Regions from separate parts of the Homo sapiens genome. Here region 1 is reported to be linked to region 2. Evidence: microRNA targets listed by miRTarBase, many of them from high-throughput screens and not tested one by one. Region 2 holds a microRNA gene; the other region holds the end of a gene's coding sequence.

Region 1 (5,000 bases), not on the chromosome of region 2:
GTAGAACTCTGATGGGGCCTTGTGCGGCCGAACCACAATCCAAGAGAGGTGTTCACATCATGTGTCGCTAGCCACAGCCATCTCAAGGGGAAATGCCCCAAATGTAGAAGTATCTGACACCAGGACTGGGGGTTGGAGCACTGGATGAACAGCGTGTGTGCCACTCTTTCACTGTGCACCGTCCTAAGAAAGAAGCCTGTTTCCCTTTGAAGAGCCTAGTGCTGACTGCCCAATTCAATCGGACCACGCAGGGCAGTCTGAGGATTAAAAGATGCTACCTTTAATTCCTTCGGCTAATTCAGAAGTATGTGAAACACAACATACTCATTAACATGGAAGAACTGGATGTGTGTGCATGTGGGTGTGTATTATTTATTTTTCAGAGACAAGGTTTCACCATGTTGCCCAGGCTGGTCTTGAACTCCTGGGCTCAAGTGATCCTCCCACCTCAGCTCCAGAGTAGCTGGGAACGAAGAATTGTATGTATTTCTGAGTGAGATAGAGTACACGATAAAACCACATAATTTATATCATTATAAATAACATACAAAATTTTGGAGGCTGAAATAATATACATGAGCAGTCATAAAATACAATGAAATCATGTGCTTTGCAGCCACATGGATGGAGCTTGAGGTAATTATCCTAACCTCGGAAACAGAAAATCAAATAGCACATGTTCTCACTTATAAGTGGGAGCTAAATAATGGGTACCTATGGACATAAAGATGGAAATAGCAAACACTGGGCACTCCAAAAGGGGGTGAGTGGGAGGGGGGGCAAGGGTTGAAATGCTACCTGAGTACAATGTTCACTATTTGGGTGATAGGTATGACAGAAGCCCAATCCCCACCAGTACGCAATATACACAAACACGCACATGTGGCTGGGCGCAGTGGCTCACGCCTGTAATCCCAGCACTTGGGAGGCTGAGGCAGGTAGATCACTTGAGGTGAGGAGTTTGAGACCAGCCTGGCCAACATGGTGAAACTCCCGTCTCTACTAAAAATACAAAAATTAGCCAGGTGTGGTGGCATGTGCCTGTAATCCCAGCTATCTGGGGGGCTGAGGCGGGAGGATCACTTGAACCTGGGAGACAGAGTTGCAGTAAGCCAAGATCACACCACTGGGCGACAGAGTGAGACTCCATCTCAAAAAACAAAACAGAACAAAACAAAACAAAACAAAACTAACATGCTCATGTACCTGCTGAATCTAAAATAAAATAATATACACTAAAATGTTAAAATTGATTTTAGTAGAATAAAAGGTGACTGAATATTTTAAAAAGTTATGCCTAGATGAATACTTTATGATTTTACATTGCAGCATTTTTTGAACATGGCAGCAGCTACTATGAATTGTCTATCCAACTGCCACTCCAGCTTCCTCCCTACTAACAAAACCCCAGCTCAAGGGCAAGTGTGCTCAGTGCCAGGGGATACACTAGTCGACCCATCCCCCTTTGCCAGGGCCTGGTCCAAGAGTGGGCACGTGGCCCCACTCTATAAAGAGACAGGGGGGAGGTTGCTGGAGCTGCTGACGGTTATTCCCGGATAAGGGCAGAATGAGAAGGCTCCTGTACTACTGTCCACTCTGGCTGTGGACACCATCATTTGCAGAATGATGCTTGGCGCAGGAGCAGCCATTCTGCAATACTGAGGATGGCAAAGCAGACGGTTCCAAGGAAATCCTGATGACATTTTGGCTTCCACCCAACTCTAGAACCATCTATTTACAGACTTTTTGCTATGTGAGATAAACATTCCCATTGCTTAAGCCACCGTCAGGCTAATTTTCTGTTACTTGTGCTGATCACATCCTGTTATAGGCAGTTATCTGTCTGGCACCGAATAAATGCCTCATGTTCACTCTAATTTAAAAGCAACCCTATTAAGCTACTACTGTCTCACTCTTACATAAAATAAAATAAATAAAATCAAGCTTAAAGAGGATAAGTGATTTTTTCCAACCAAAGTTACTGGTGGAGTCAGATTCAAACCCAACCGTGACTCGACAGCCTGGACTCTGCCACTTAAACATGTAGTTAGAAAAGTGTGCAAGCCTATTGTTCCTTCTTTCTGTATTTAACAGAAAGCATATACACAGATGCAGGGAGCAACAAATTTGCATCCACTTGCACTCATGTATAAATTTGGCTTTGGGCTCTTCTCCTCTGTCATCTGTCCATATTCCTTGGTAGAAATGCATGCCTCAGGGGCCTGACCAAGAAGGTGGACTCTCCTCTCTTTTCCCACACTTATTAATAAGACCTAATTTGTGCATCAGGGATCTGAGACAGGTTGTGAGGACTTTGATACGGAGTCATAAGGTTCAAGCCAAGACATCTGAATGGGCGAAATGAACGTGAAAGCAGTACATGTTCTTCCTCAAACTTTCTTGGAAGGGTCAGAAAACAGAAGATTGAAAAATACCCAATATCTAACATCGGGCCATTGAGTTCGTCCAAAAAAAGCAGAAGAGTATTTCTGAACCAAAGAAACAGAATAGAAAGAGAGGATGAGAATGGAGACCTGCTGGCCGTGCATCAGCTATTTAAAGGAAGAAAGGGCTGGAGCCCAGAGTTAACCAAAGCTTAGCCTTAGACCAAACAGGGCTTCCCAGCACAGGTTTCCAAGGAACCCTTTCTGCTCCAGTCCTCTACAGTGAGAAGAGCCCAGAATAACACTGTCCAATGGAGCTGACATGAGCTTCAGCACCAGAAAGGGTGATATGGTCACCAAATATTCAGTCAGCCTCACAGCTGCTGGCTGGGCAGGTTGAGGGCTTTGTAGGAGAAGCCCAGCCTTGACAAATGAGTAACAGGCTTGAGGAACTTTGAAAAGAAGGAAGGTGAGCCTGAAGGAAGATGTACCCAAAATCTAAGGGGCCACTAGGAATCAGGGATGGGGGTGGAGGGGAAGCGGTTCTTCCTGAGCCCCTATGGTTCATACTGTCCCAGAGGCCAGGTGCCACGACGCCAGCAAAGGGAAGTTGTGCCATCAGCGTCTAACAGCCACACACGCTGCCGCATGAGACCTTTTTCTAACCTGCAAACGTCTCCCCAGCTGAACCAGGGAAAACCCCAGCCCTACTGTCAAGACAAGAGGAGAAGCTGTTCCTCCAGGGACAACACAGTACAATGACCTGGTAAAGGGAACAGGATCACAGACCCAAAAAAGTAACACTGAGTAGGTGGCTCTGGCAGTGCTAGGACAGGAGACGGGCAGGCCTCTGAAACCCAAAGTTTTTGAAGTGGGCATCATCGGCCAAGTGTCAAAGAGGCCATTATTCAATACATCCCTAACTTCTCTTATGAAGGATTTAGTTTTTTTGTTAGCAATATATGACTTCGGCTCATACATGAGTACTAACTGCAAAGGAAAGAGTGCAGGGAACATGTCCTGGGCCCAACATGTCCCCCAAAGGCTTTTGTAGGGTGCTGGGAGGGGTCTCTGACTTCTTCCTTTCTATTACCTGCAGCTATTACAGTAACTCACACAGGAGGCACCTGGCTAACAGGAGCCAGGAGAAAAAGGCATAGAACAATCTGACACCATAAATTTAGGGCATCAGGCCCAGGGTGAGGACGGGATATAAAGCAGGAAGGGGCAAGAGTGGGGACGGGAGCAGCTCTAGTCGCTGCTTCTGGGAGATTTAGAATCTCTATTTTGTTTGAAAATAGACTCAGGTAGAGAAAAAGGACATGAACGTTTATTGAGTGCCTGCTGGTTCTGGCCTTGTGCAGTTTTCATCTATAATAGCCCATGAATCCTCACGCCAACCCTGGAGGTAGGTATCATCCCCATTTGTGTCGGATGAGGTATAGGAGGCTCAGAAAGGTTAGGTAGTTTGTCCAAGGACACAGAACCAGGAACTGGCAAGCTGGGACCGAGTGCTTAAGTCTCAGACTCAATCCTTGCTCTCTCTCCTATACTGCCTCCAGGAGGACGGGGGGAGCACCAGCAGAAGCTGCAGTCCACACGCTTCCTGCCCCTGCAACCCAGCAGGCACCAAGAGAAGCCGGCCCCTTCACACAGACCCTCCCCATCTACCCTTGGAGGATGCATCAGTGGAAGAGATTAAGACATAAATACAAAAATAAATAGCAGGGCCAAGTCCCCAGCAGCAAGGATGTGCCATCTCCACGCTGCAGGAAGGTCACTGTGCCATTCACAGCTGCTGTGGGAGGAAGCCCTGGGGGACCTGGAACAATGGTTGCCAAAGGCTGGAGTGAGTGGGCTCAGTGGGCCCCTTCTGGGTCTCACAGATTCAAGAACAAAATGTCTGGAGCAGGCAGCAGCCGTGGGCACAGGCGCCGTCCTCCTCCACCTGCTCATTTTACCGGTGTTTGTGATCCAAGAGGGATTCAAAATCAGGGGAACATACAAGTTTGTGCTTCACGTGTCCCAGGACTGTCATCTCCCCTGTCCTACTGTCTCCAAGGCCCACGGACACCAGCTCCTGCCAATTAACAGAGACAGTGATGAGAACCACCACCACGTGCCCGGCGTGTAGAGCTGTGAATGGGGACATGATACTCCCAGAAACCCCCTCCCTTATTTAGCAGTGGCTCTTCAATCCTCCTTCACTCCTGAAAGGGTCCCTCCTTGCCCCTAAGGAGGCTCTTACCTGCAGGAAGGAGCAGGCAGTTCCCATGGTCACGTCCAGAGTCACCTTGCCCAAGAGGAGTTGCACCCTTCCAGACTTGCGGATGAGTAGCTTGCCAACCTGACCCTCTGTCAGGTCAGCCAGGGTACAAGCATTCTCTGCCAATTTGGCTTCCTGCGGAGAAAACCAGAGGATGGACACTGGGCTAGGAGCTCTTTCCTCCATCTTTCATGAACCCCCTTCTACTCCCCAAGAGAAAGGCACAGCAAAGGTCAAAATGAGCTCCCCAAAGAGTGCCTTCTCCTAGGGCTGTCTGCTATGGTTAAAATACAAAACCCACAGCAAACAAATACATACACGGACAAAATATCAGTTACTGCTGAAGCTGA
Region 2 (5,172 bases):
ACATCAGCCTCTGCCCTCCCTAATTTGTGGCCCCTGTGGGACAAGTTCACTGTCCAGCTGGCCCTGGCCCAGCTCAGCAGGCATGCAGCTGAGTGCTCTTCCCTCCTTCTGTCACCTTCAGGCCAGTCTTCCTCTCTCTGACTTGGGCTGAGCCTGGATGGGAGGCTGAGAAAATCCAGTTTCCATGCCAAGAGGCAGCAGGTCACAGCCCATGCTTCGAGATTAGAAGGGGTCCCTCTCAGTGTCCAGCCTCATGTAGCTGGGCTAGGAGCTAGGTTGGATCTGTGTGACTCCTTCCTCTGGAGGTATGGGCCAGGAGCGGCTGAGCCCTGGGAGCAGCCATATGCAGTATGTGTTTGTATCCAGAAGGAGGAGGGACATGGGAGGAGGGGCTGTGATGAGGGGTGCTCAGAGGAGCCTGCTCCTGAGAAGCAGAGCCACGCACCCACCTCGGGGGTTTCTGAGCTGGGGTAGTGGCAGGAGGGGAATTCCAGCCTCAAACTTCCTGTCTCAGCTGCTACTCGGTTCCTGCCCGGCCACCCCCCCTCCCCAGGGGCAGGCGGGCTAGCCCCCCCATCATATGCAAATCATGGGGAAATTCACCTCTGTTTCCTTCTAAGGGAATTTTTTTCCACTCGCCAGGCCCAGCCCAGGCATATCTTTTCACCTGGGGAGGCTGGCCCAGCCCTGCCTTCTGTCCTGGGGCAGGAGCAGCCTAGCTGGAGTCTTCTACACACACATCCTATCAGTGTCTGCTTAGCCCGGCTGGGGGACCCTGACCTTACAGGCAAAGAGAACTGGAATGGGGGCAGGGATGTCTGGTTTTCCTGTGCCAGCAGCGCTTCCTCCAGTGCAGTGAAAGAGACTAAAGCTAGCTGTAGGGGGGCACTCCAGGCCTCATGTGCTCTACCAGGAGGAGGGCTCTGATAGCGCCCACTGATCAGTTTTTCCATCTGCTGAGGGAATATTCAGGTGCTAGGGCTGCTGAGAACCGACTTGTCCCAGCCAAGATTTTCAGTGCCCACAGGCAGTGCACTGCCCTGAGAGCCCTGGCATCCCATTAGTTCCCAGTGCTCCAAGATACTAGCCTAGGATCATGTGCCCGGAGGGAGGCAGGTGGGCGGATACATGCGCACACTGCATACCTGAGACAAGGAGCCAGGCCTGGGATGACCCAGCTGCCATGGTTTTGAGAGGCAGGCCAGAAGGCCCAAGGAAGGGGGGTGATGTGATGGGGGAAGCACTGGGCATTGTGAAGACACAGACCAGGGACCTGACCTATTGTGGCAGGTCAGGGAAGGCTTCTCAGAGGCAGTGACATCTCACAAGGGTTCTGAAGGAAGAGCAGGAGTTTGCCAGCAGCATTGTTTCTCCCGTTCGCCACCTGTCTCTCATAACACACTTTGTTCAAACTCAATTTTGGGAGCTTTGTTCTCCCAAATAAATTCTGGATCTTCTGTTAGAGACAGGAAGGCAACCGAGTGGCCCAGACCTGGGTTCGAGTTCTGACTGTCTCTTACCACTAGCCAGGTGACCTTCCTTTCCTTCACGGTAGCAAGCCCTATAAGAATGAAGCCATATATCTGGCCACCAGCGGGAGCTCAGTGCCTGCGAATCCCTGCTCATTCCCTGCGATCAGGGTCTGTGCCTGCCTTCGTACCTGCCTGAGCATTGACGTACAGGGTAGTGATAAGCATAGGCCCTGGGCTTGCGTCTCTCTTCCACCGTTAACTGCTGTGTGACCCTGGTGACTAAGCTGCCTTCTCTGGACCACAGTTTTCATCTGAAAAACAGGGAAGGAGTTGATGATGGTATAGTGCCCTCCTCACAAGCTTGCTGATGATTCAGTGTTAGACACTTATAACAGGGCCTGGTTCACAGCTCTCAGCAAATGGGAACTTTTATTATAAGCAGGCTGGCAGATGTGGCAGAGGGACCGGGAAGGATGAGTGCTGCCCTGGGCTGGACTTTGTCTCCCCTACAATTTAGAGACCTTCAGACCCTGGTGCCCCAGTCTTGCCCCCAAATAGCCTCCATGGCCCCCAGCTGCCCCACCTCCCTCCCTAGCTTCTCTTAGGGCTCCAGCTATCACCCCTTACCTCCCCCACTCCCATTAAAGACACCCACAGGATGTGGTTGGCCCTGGACTTGCCTCTTTTGCGTAACATTTATTCTGTTTTATTTGCCAAATACGAGAGTCTAAGCTGTTCACTGAGGGGGCAGTGAGACGTGGGGCTGCTGGTCCTAGGAGCTCTTCCATGACACCTAGTGTTACCTGGGAGCCCCAAGCCCCAGTCCCCCATCCCTCAGGAAATCCAGTTGGAACCCCTACTTTGCAGGGCCATCTTTGGCCTGAAGCCACCAGGAAAGCTGTCCCACTGACTGACCCCTCTTAAGGAAGCTGCAGACTGCTGGGCCCATTTTCAGATAGAGGAACGGAGAGCTGCGGCAGCCCAGGAGCCCTGCCAGGCTTCCTTCTGGGTGCAGCCACCTGTGGGTGGGGCGCGGCCTCGTCTGAGACCAAGGCAGGGCCCATGCCTTACTCAGCTGTCCTTGCTAAGAGTCCCCTAGCATCTTCCTGATGGTCTTTCTGCCTTGGGGTGAAGAGGCATTTGGGGGAATTGCCATCTTGGGAGGAAAAGCAGTATCCTTTCACTTTCAGACTGAAAGGCTCCTGGGGAACTTGCTTCACTCCGGCGCTTTCTGTCCCATGCTGAAGGCTGGAGTCGCCAGCCCCTTCCCCTTTGCCTTTCTCAGGCCCCAGTCCCTGAGGTGTGTGTGAGGACTGAACTTTAATCCGGAACAATCTGGTTTCTCCTCGGTCAGCCCAGCCGGTGCTTCCCCCGCCCCCACCCACGCTGCAAGAGGCGAGGGAGGGGTGGTGACTCAGTGTGCATGTGTACATCTGTCCCTGTGGTCCCGGCAGCTCGCCGGGTGGGGCAGGAACCAGAAGTCTCGCGGCACCTTTCCCCCACCCCCAGGTGTGTTGCAAGTGGCCTGGCCCTCCCCCACCGTGGGGAGCAGTGCTGCCAGCTTCCTGGGCGCTTCCTCACTTTCAGGAGATGGAGCCTCAGGGAAAGTCCCAGCGGGGCCTGGCCATCCTGGAGCTGTGGGAACTGGCACTGGGAATGGAGGCCTTGGCCTTGGGCCCCACCTGCAGAGGGCCAGGGCCTGAGCCCTGGGGAAAGGGGAAGGGGCTGGTGACTCCAAAGGGGAAGGGACTGCTCACTACCACCACCAAAGCCAGGGCAGGGGTGGGGTGTGACCACCTCCCTCCTCCTGCTCAGGCCTAGGGGGTGGCAGGCTGGCCATCAGTGTGGGCTAACCCTGTCCTCTCCCTCCCAGCCATGGGAACAAGGAGGTCTTCTCCTGCCGGGGCATCCTGCTGGCAGTGAACTGGTTTCTGGAGCGGGGCCACACAGACATCACAGTGTTTGTGCCATCCTGGAGGAAGGAGCAGCCTCGGCCCGACGTGCCCATCACAGGTGAGTGGTGCCTCTGGAGGTGGGATGGTCTTACTGCCCCAGCAGCCCTGGTTCTCCCCAAGAGAGACCCTCTGGGAGTGACCTACAACTTCTAGAACTCAAGCAGGGACCAGCATTTCTTTTCTCAGTTTTTTCTGTCCTTAGCAACCTGCTCTGAATGGTGGTCATTGGAGGTCACCTTGTCCAGTCTTCTGCCTCAGATCTGGAGCCCCTCCCTCATCCTACTGGTGGGCAGGTCGCTCTTTCAACATCCCCAGTGGCAGAAGCGCAGTATCACATAGTGGTTAAGCCTGTGGGCTCTGAGTCGAGACAGCCAGAGTTGGAATCCTGGCTCTGTCCCCTCTTGGCGCCCTGGCCTGGACAGGGACCCCTCTTAGCCCTGCTCTGAGCCACATGCTCCTCATCTGAAACATGGGGTCGGTGTCAGCAGGGGGTGTTGACAGCATTGCCTTCCTCGTGAGGTCATATAAGTTAACACACGGTAAGTGCTGAGAAGAGTACCTGGCACATGGTAGATGCTCAGTGTATGTTAGCTGTTACCACTGTTCTTGCAAGAGCCCCCAGCCTTTGGAGGTAAAAACTGAATCAGTTTCTCTAGAAGTCTTGAGATCTGGGGGCAGCCTGTCTGGGACTGTAGGCTCCAGGAAGAGGGGCCCTTTCCACTTGCACACTTCTGTGTCCCTGTGGTCCCAGCAGCTCCCCAGGTGGGGCATGGTGAGTGGCCTGACCTTTTCCCACCATGGGATTTAGCGACCTTGTCCTGGCAATGCAAGGGACAGAGCCAAGATACTTCTCCCACCCCAGAGCAAGCTGCGGCTCATTCACGGACCCCTCAGAACAGGCTGGATGAAAGCCAAAGCCAAGACCACATCTGGCTTGAACAGGCCTGATGTCCAGAAGGAGAAAAGGAACAAGGCCAGCTCTGTGCTTGGAGCCTCTGCCATGCAGGCCCTGCCGCCTGTGTTCAGATGTTCTTGGTCTTCAGGCAGCAAACTGTGCCACGCCAAGGGAGGGGCTGGGGCATGGAAGAGGCCTCAGCAGAGTTAGTTCTTGCCCCGGTGACCTTGGCGTTAACCACTCCTGTGTGTGGCCATCAGCAGGTTAGGGAGCCCTGTAGGCCTGGCTCTAGGTCCCGCTGGGCCCTGACCTGTGTGCACCCGTCACCTCCCAGACCAGCACATCCTGCGGGAACTGGAGAAGAAGAAGATCCTGGTGTTCACACCATCACGACGCGTGGGTGGCAAGCGGGTGGTGTGCTATGACGACAGATTCATTGTGAAGCTGGCCTACGAGTCTGACGGGATCGTGGTTTCCAACGACACATACCGTGACCTCCAAGGCGAGCGGCAGGAGTGGAAGCGCTTCATCGAGGAGCGGCTGCTCATGTACTCCTTCGTCAATGACAAGTATGTTCCCTCCCAGAGGCCCTGACAGACTTGGGGTCCACAGGGGAAGCCAGAGGTGCCCTTGGCAAGGGTGGAGCTGGGGGCTGGGCTCTGCGGGGCCCTGTGGCCATGGGAGGTTGCGGGTCTTGGCTCCAGGCAGCTTTGAGAGTGAGACGGATAGCTCACCACATAGGAGAAATCAGACCGGGACCAGGCAGGCTGTGGGGTGGAGAGAGTGGCTAATTTGGGAGATAGAGCCGTAGCACTTATGAGGGGATGTATGTGGTTGATGGTTCCAGGTG

What was found. Region 2 holds the annotated microRNA hsa-miR-6732-3p (UAACCCUGUCCUCUCCCUCCCAG, at 3,323-3,345, shown strand). A microRNA usually pairs through its seed, bases 2 to 8, with sites in the 3' UTR of a target mRNA and lowers its output. Matches are read on the target gene's strand: a 7mer-m8 pairs with bases 2 to 8, a 7mer-A1 pairs with bases 2 to 7 and ends in A, and an 8mer does both.
Region 1: the mRNA of POLR3D is a reported target of hsa-miR-6732-3p. Seed matches in the 3' UTR shown: 7mer-m8 at 3,783-3,789.

The regions. Positions count from the first base shown.
Region 1 is chr8:22,249,860-22,254,859 of GRCh38, reverse strand. It overlaps POLR3D (RNA polymerase III subunit D), which reads right to left. Exons shown (of 9, transcript NM_001722.3): 8 at 4,633-4,785; 9 at 259-4,464. The coding sequence ends at 4,342. It overlaps PIWIL2-DT (PIWIL2 divergent transcript), which reads left to right. Exons shown (of 2, transcript NR_134293.1): 2 at 1-284. Among named protein-coding and RNA genes, the nearest start is that of POLR3D, 7.2 kb to the right of the region's middle.
Region 2 is chr1:37,476,945-37,482,116 of GRCh38, forward strand. MIR6732 (microRNA 6732) reads left to right here and starts at 3,286; the gene lies at 3,286-3,345. It overlaps ZC3H12A (zinc finger CCCH-type containing 12A), which reads left to right. Exons shown (of 6, transcript NM_025079.3): 3 at 3,346-3,485; 4 at 4,657-4,891. RefSeq lists enhancers at 291-590, 1,981-2,807, 2,431-2,970, 2,744-3,038, 2,808-3,634.